2 linked regions of the Homo sapiens genome follow. The protein of the gene in region 2 interacts with the protein of the main gene of each other region in a pairwise test. Each region holds a gene or a part of one and is shown on either strand. Other genes may lie near its edges.

Region 1 (3,749 bases), on a different chromosome or scaffold from region 2:
ATTTCAGAATGGATATACCCACACCACTATGAAAATCAAACCTACTAAGAAGGGTGCCAGTTTTGCTTTCAGGTTGTTGTTTCTCCTGTAGGCTGAGGATACACCGTCAAAGCACTGAGTCCAACATTACGGTTTCTTTTCCCCCATCTGTGTAGTCATGTTACTCATTTGCAACACATTTGCATTTATGTGCTTCTTTGTATTCAATTCTAGTTTCCTGCTATTCTTAGTGATTTATTTTTTGAACTTGTAGAATGTTAGCATGTTCTAAAAGTCAAAAATATACCAAAAAATGAGAATAAACTAATAGAAAGGAAACCACCTCAACATAGTAAAAGCCATATACGACAAGCCCAGCAAACATCACACTCAATGTTAAAAGACTGAAAGCTTTTCCTCCAAGATCAGGAACAAGACAAGAATGCCCATTTTCACCTCTTCTATTCAACACAGTACAGTCATGCGTTGCTCAACGATGACGATACATTCTGGGAAATGTGTCCCTGGGCAATTTCATCATCATATGAACATCATAGAGTGTCCCTCACACAAACTGCACACCTAGGCTATGTGGTGTAGCCTACTTCTCCTAGGCTACAACAAACCTATACAGCATGTGGCTGTACTGAATACTGTAGGCAACTGTAACAGGATGGGAAGCATTTGTGTATCTAACCATATAAAAGGCACAGTCATATACAGTAGTGTTATCTTATGGGACCACTGTCATATAGGTGGTCCATCGTCTGAAAACATCATTATTTGGCCCATGACTGTATTGGAAGTTCCAGGCTGAGCAATTAGGCAAGACCAAAAATAATAAAAGGCATCCAAATTGTAAAGGAAGAAGTAAAATTATGCCTATTTGTAGATGATACGACTTTACATACAGAATAAGAGCTACAAAAATGCTATTTGAGCTAATAAGCAAATTCCACAAGCTTGCAGGTTAGAAAATCAACACACAAAAATGTTACATTTCTGTGCACTAACAGTGGGCAATGTGAAAAGGAAATTTAAAAAACACAATTCCAATTACAACAGCTCGAAAAGAATAAAATACTCAGGAATAGATTTAACTTAAGAGGCAAAAGACTCATACACTAAAAACTAAAAAACATTGCTGAAAGAAATGAAAGGTCTAAATAAATGTTAAGACATCCTGTGTTTATGGACAGGAAGACAATACTGTTAAGATGATGGCCAGTGAGGTGGCTCATGCCTACGATCCCAGGACTGGGGTGGGGGTGGGGAATCCCTTCAGCCCAGGAGTTCAAGACCAGCCTGGGCAACACAAGTGGACCTCCATCTCTACGAAAAAAAATCAAAGAATTAGCCAGGCACGGTAGCGCGTGCCTGTGGTTCCAGCTACTTCAGAGGCTAAGATGGGAGGATAACTTGAGCCCAGGAGGTAGAGGCTTAGCCCAGGAGGTTAAGGCCAGAGGTAGTGAGCCGTGTTTGCACCACTGCACTCCAGCCTGGGTGACAGAGCAAGACCTTAACTCAAAAAAAAAAAAAAAAGTTAATACTACTCAGATCCATCTACCAATTCAATGCAACCTCTACTAAAATCCCAGTGACATTTTTGCATAGCAATTTGTGGCTACTGACACCTGAAATGAAGCCAGTGAAGGGGAGGAAGTGAATCTTTAATTTCTTTTAATTTTAATTAATTTTAACTTATATAGCTGTGTGTGCCTGGTGGCTACTATATTCCACAGCACAAGCCTACAATGAGGAGTTCAGGCCTAAACATTTCCTTATTTTAACTGCCCATTGTGTTAACTATCCCTCCAGGAGGGTGTGGAAACCATTAGGCTAGGAGTATTTGGGATTTAGGGGAACCCTCCCCCACTCCAGGAGGACTTGAAGCAGCCGCCACATTCTCCTCTGATAACATCTAGAAAGTGACAGAGTGCTTACTGAAGCTCATTCCAGCGACAATTAAAGACATACACACCACTTCCCACTAGAACTTAAGGATTTCTAGAGGACCAAGCTACTTAGTCGAATTAAGCTACATTTTTCTGTAATTATTTCCTTCCCTTTAGCTTTTGAGTTTTTTGCTTTTTTCAGAGATAGGACTTAAAAAGAAAACACCCACAGAAATCCCAAAAACAGTGCCAACCACACCAATAAAATTCCCTATTTTGTAAAAGCTTTATGAAAATTCCCAACACTGTTCAACAATTCTTTGGCCACTCTACGAATATGATTTTAAACAGATTACACCCCAGACATATTTTATGACAACTGCACACGCAAGCAAAGCTGTCCCGCCCTCGTTTCCAACTTGGCAAGCTCTTCAACAAAACCAAATAAATACATGCTAGAAAAAGGCGGCTGCTACAAAACCCCGGCCAGTTGCAGCTATAATTAATGGGCTGGAGCGCCTCTTGTTGCTTGGATTTTTACTTTCAAAACTCAAGAAGCCCACACTACCCACTGAAAGCCTCAACAGTGTTATGGTGGTGTTGTGGGGCAAAGCAGAACCTAAGAGCCCAAAGGGTCACTGAGAAGTAATGTTTTCAAAGCCAGTCCCTTCAACCCAACAGTCCCTTCATGAAATTGCTATTGGCCATGCAGCTGGGGTGCAACCAATAAAAATCCAGACCTAGCTAGCAATGCTTCCACTGCAAAACAAAGCCCCCTGGTTTCTTTACTTTGAAACCTTACATGCTTGGTATTCTCCACTTGGTGGTCACCACGGGGCTCCCAAAAAGGAAATATCCTAATGACAATGTATGGAGTCACAACCAATGGGCAAGAGCAAGGAAGAGCCCGCCCCGAGGAGCCCCCAAGGAGGCACCTCAAGGTAAACCCAAAATTGGGCTGCCCAGCCCTTCACCACGTGGAAACCACAAGACGCTGATGGGGTGTGGAAGAGGAGGAGGAGGGAGTCCTTCACAGTGTCCCCTCCAGGTTCCCAGGGAATGAACCAGATAAACACCAAAAGGAAAGGCCTGTCATCAAGGAACCATTTTAGAAGATGGTTATAAACCCTGGGAAGGAGTAACAGTTTGTAGCGTTAACTTTCTTTTCCCTGACTACAATGTGGAATTATATAATTAGAACTCTCCAAGGGAAAGGATTACAAAGAGTACACAAATTTCCAGCACTACAACAGACTAGCCAGGTCCTGCAGATTAGGGAGCTCAAGTCCTTCACATCCAGTTCCCATTTCACTAATAACTTTTCCCATCCTGGCCTCTCAGGGAATGCATTTTAAAGGAGTGCCAGTCCACCAGCTGAAACCTTTCTAAAGGGGATTAATCTTCCCTACCTGTCAGATGAGCTGTTCGTACCCCTGTATTTCTATTCCACTGATTTCAGAAGAGCTTCCAAAGAAAAGAGCAGTGTAAAATTCAGACTCTGCCAGACTTAATCTCTTGGAGGTTAAATCCAGGCTAACTGTTTAAGGGGCAACAAGTGATTCACTGCAAACCACACTTAAGAGAGAGACATACAAACACCAATTACAGCAGCACTTTGAATAAACAATAAAAAAAAGGTTTCACAATAAAAATAAAAATGTTGTTTAACATTGCCTTAAAAATCTGCAGAGCAGTCACCAAAAACTACCCCTGGAAAACGCACATTTTAAAAAACCCATGTTGCTTTTTTACATATAAAATATAAAGCAGACTTGTCAGTTTTCCATGATTTGCTTTACTAATTAAAAGTTCAGCTTGGCTTTCCAGAGCCCTCTCAGTTACACTGAGTGTCACATAGGGTCCACGGCGATCAGA
Region 2 (3,749 bases):
CTTGATACCTGCAAGCAGAGTGCTCACCCTATCCCGTATTTTGGCCATAGACAGCCTCCCAGGGCTATATCTCAGGGAACTTTCTGAGAGGTATGAGCTGGGGCTGGCTCCCAGGGAAACCTCTGGTTCTGAGCTGCCCTGTGTGTGGGGTGGGGGTGGGGTGGGCATAGCACTTTCTGGGTTCATCATGAACTGTGGCTCTGCCTCCTACCTCCTTGCCCTCTCGGAGCTGAGTGAGCATGACAATGAGGGACACTTCCTCTTGCCACACCATCTCCCAGAAGTCCGACACAGTGTTGGGCATGGGGCCCTGGGTGGCAATGTAGACCTTCTCCTTCCCGTCATAGCCCTGGAAGGTGGAAGCACAGGGGAAGGGGTGGGGAGCAGTGAGAGCAGAGCTCTGGGGAGATCCTAGATGCCTCAGGTGCTGGGGTCAGCCTGAAGCTGTGAACCACACGTGTAGACGTACACATGCACGAACACGCACACTCAGAAGCCACATGATGGAAAGGATACGGGTTCTGGAATGAGGATCAGATCCCTGTTCTGCTGTTTCCTGGCTGTACCACTATAAGCCAGTTACCTAGCCTCCGTAAGCCTCAGTGGTATCATCTGTAAATTGGGCATAATAATATCTATCTTGTAGGAATGTAGAGTGGATTAAATTCAGTAAGATATATTGAGAGTCTAGCCGATAGCAAGTGCTCTATAAATGTTTATTCCCTTCCTCCCCTGCTGCTTTCTTCTAGCACAAAATACCTAAACAGTGTTTAATATTTGTTCAGTGACAGTTTCACATTTACAGGTTACTACTTTTCTATGAAAGTAGTAGCAAAATGTAGCACACTCTCCCTAACCTGATTTTCTCACCTTCAGGATCCTCAGCTTCCTGCTTCTCAAGATGGTGAAATCCAGACTGCAGTTGATCCGGTATTGGCCGGCAAATGTAAGATCATGTTTCCCCATGGCTTCCCTAGCTAAGAGCTTTTCGCCTCCCTGCGCCCCTGACTGATGTCTTACCCACATTGAGTCACTAGAGAGCGCTGCTTTTACATCTCCTTAGGGCCCACAGCAGCGAGAAGCTGGCGTGGAACACCCACCTGGCCTGGAGCTTCCTATAGCTTGACGTCAATCAACCATCTTCATATAAGAGGGGCTATCTGAGGGGCAGTTAAGGTAAGTTGGCGGGGAGGTCCCATTAGTGCTGGCATCACCTATGCAGTTCTCGGGAGCTGTGAGCTCTTAAGCAGCTGGAGATTGGGTTCAACAATGCTAACTTCCTGCTAAGTTTAGAGGGTGGCATGGGAGGACTGATAGTGGAGGTTAGGGAGACTTGGTGGTCTCTCCAGATATTTTTCAACATCTGCTCCGTTTTTTAGGTTGGTGTTTTGGGGCATGTTCAGTACCAGCCCAGCTTGGTAGGGCTATGACAGCAGTGAGCTGGAGCAGGGAGGGTAGGAAATGCAGGCACCTGATCCACCAGCCATGGCTGGAAGATATTCTCAGACGTCTGAGAATTCCCCCATTCCCCGCCCACCACTGCAGCCAGGCCACTCACTCGGATGTAGTTGGCATTGATGTAATCTCCGTCCTCCTGGCTCTGTGCCCGGCCTAGACAGACACGGCTCTGGGGATCTAGGAAATAAAAATCAGCAGAGGTCAGAGGTCAGAAGGTGACCAACTAACACAGACTCAAGCAGGGTCAGAAAGAGGAGAGTTCCTGTGCTCATCACAGTCATAGCACCTTGTGTATAGCAGGTGGCCTTACACCCACTGAAGTTGTTGTTTTTGTTGTTGTTTTTAGAGACAGGGTCTCATTCTGTTGCCTAGGCTGGAGTGCAGTGGTGCGATCATAGCTCACTGTAACCTCTAACTCTTGGGCTCAAGTGATACTTTTGTCTCAGCCTTTGACATAGCTGGGACTATAGGCAAATGCCACCACACCTGGCTTGCTTATTTATTTATTTATTTACGTTTTTTGTAGAGATTGGGTTTCACTTTGTTGCCCAAGCTGGTCTTGAATTTCTGACTTCAAGCAATTCTCCCACCTCAACCTCCCAAAGTGCTGAGATTACATGTGTGAGCCACCATGTCTGGCCCCTATTGAAGTATTTTATACGCAGACAGTAGGAAGCTGTATAATGTTTTTGAGCAGGAGAGTGACATGATCAAAACAATAGTTTGGGAAGATTAACTGAGTGGTGCTGTATAGGATGGACTAGAGAAGAAAGGGAACGGAACAGCAGAGACCAAATGGGAAGATACAATATTAGATATAATATTCTAATAGATACAGTATTCTATCCTTGAGATCAGTACAGGTTTAGAACAAGATTATGCCACTAGGGATGGAAAAAGAGATGTAGAGGAAGAAGAATTTGTTTTCTAATGGTGAATATGGGATTCACATGAGCAACTTGCCAGATATCACATAGCTGTGAAGTGGGACTAGGACTCAGATTCCGCTCAGCCACGAGGCATTTGGCCTCTGCCTCTAAGGGGGAAGGATTTCTCTAAATGAAACCCAAACATGGATGAAGAAGCTGGCTTGTGAGGAAAGGAGAAGAGACTCTCGCTCTGCTCATGCCAGCCTGGTCATGGACAGAAGGTACCCTGGGGACCAGGGGAATCTCAGGCAAAGGAATTTTTCCCTTTTCTGGTGGCTGCAGGGCTGATTAGAATTAGGCCAAGAACAAGGGCTACTCCTCCCCCTGGCCTGGAATAGCGCTAATAGCACCTTGATCCGCCCATGCAGGCAGAGGACACTCCAGGAGGGTTAGCAGGAGACAGGGCCCGAGTGCTCACTGAGCTAAAGCCTCAAGCTGGGAGTAGCTTCCCTGTAGGGAGAGCAGGGGAGGGAGGGAGAGGCTCCGGGGCCTCATGCCTGCCTCCGAAAAATAGAAGGTGCTTGCTCCGGGTCTGCCAGTTTGCAGGGTCACCCCCTCCTAGCACAGTGTCCTCCCTCCCCGCCTCCACTGCTCTCTTGCTGGCCGTTGCCCTGTCTCCATCTGACTTTCTCAAAGCCATCTCTCTGGGAGCCCTCCTGGTGGTGCTTCCTTCACTGCAAGCCTTGGCTGGGCATTTCCCATGCAAGAGGAAGACAGGGAAAGGGGCTTGGTGCAAGTAGCTAAGTTGAATATCTTAGGTAAGATATTCAACTTCTCTGTGCCTTAGTTTCCTCACTTGTAAAATGGTCATCACAGTACCAACTTCATGGGATTGTTGTGAGAAATGAGTGAATATAAAGGATTGAGGCTGGACGCGGTGGCTTACGCCTGTAATCCCAGCACTTTGGGAGGCCGAGGTGGGCGGATCACCTGAGGTCGGGAGTTCGAGACCAGCCTGACCAACATGGAGAAACCCCACCTCTGCTAAAAATACAAAATTAGCCACGCATGGAGGCGCATGCCTGTAATCCCAGCTACTCGGGAGGCTGAGGCAGGAGAATCGCTTGAACCCGGGAGGCGGAGGTTGCAGTGAGCCCAGATTGCGCCATTGCACTCCAGCCTGGGTGACGAGAGTGAAAACTCCGTCTTAAAAAAAAAAAAAAGGATTGAGAACAGGGCCTGGCCCAGGGTACATATCTGCAAACATTATTATTGCTGCTGTTGTGATTCTTGCTCCTTCTTCCCCCTTTCTCTGCTGAGAGAAGATGTGCCAAGCAAGGTTGATCTTCCCTGGCTGAAACTGTGTACTTTGTCCTCTGAAGTTCTCTAGCCCCAGGGACTGTACCCGACTCCCTTCATCCC

What was found. Proteins that work in one complex are often made in the same cells at the same time.
Region 1: the proteins of PTPN7 (region 2) and ROR2 interact in a two-hybrid assay, tested with the Homo sapiens proteins (one study listed by BioGRID and IntAct).

What each region holds. Positions count from the first base shown.
Region 1 is NC_000009.12:91,943,575-91,947,323, forward strand, and holds part of ROR2 (tyrosine-protein kinase transmembrane receptor ROR2 isoform 1 precursor), read right to left. Parts: intron 1-3,749. UniProt on the Homo sapiens protein: Tyrosine-protein kinase receptor which may be involved in the early formation of the chondrocytes. It seems to be required for cartilage and growth plate development. Phosphorylates YWHAB, leading to induction of osteogenesis and bone formation.
Region 2 is NC_000001.11:202,153,975-202,157,723, forward strand, and holds part of PTPN7 (tyrosine-protein phosphatase non-receptor type 7), read right to left. Parts: intron 1,636-3,749; coding exon 1,559-1,635; intron 350-1,558; coding exon 212-349; intron 1-211. UniProt on the Homo sapiens protein: Protein phosphatase that acts preferentially on tyrosine-phosphorylated MAPK1. Plays a role in the regulation of T and B-lymphocyte development and signal transduction.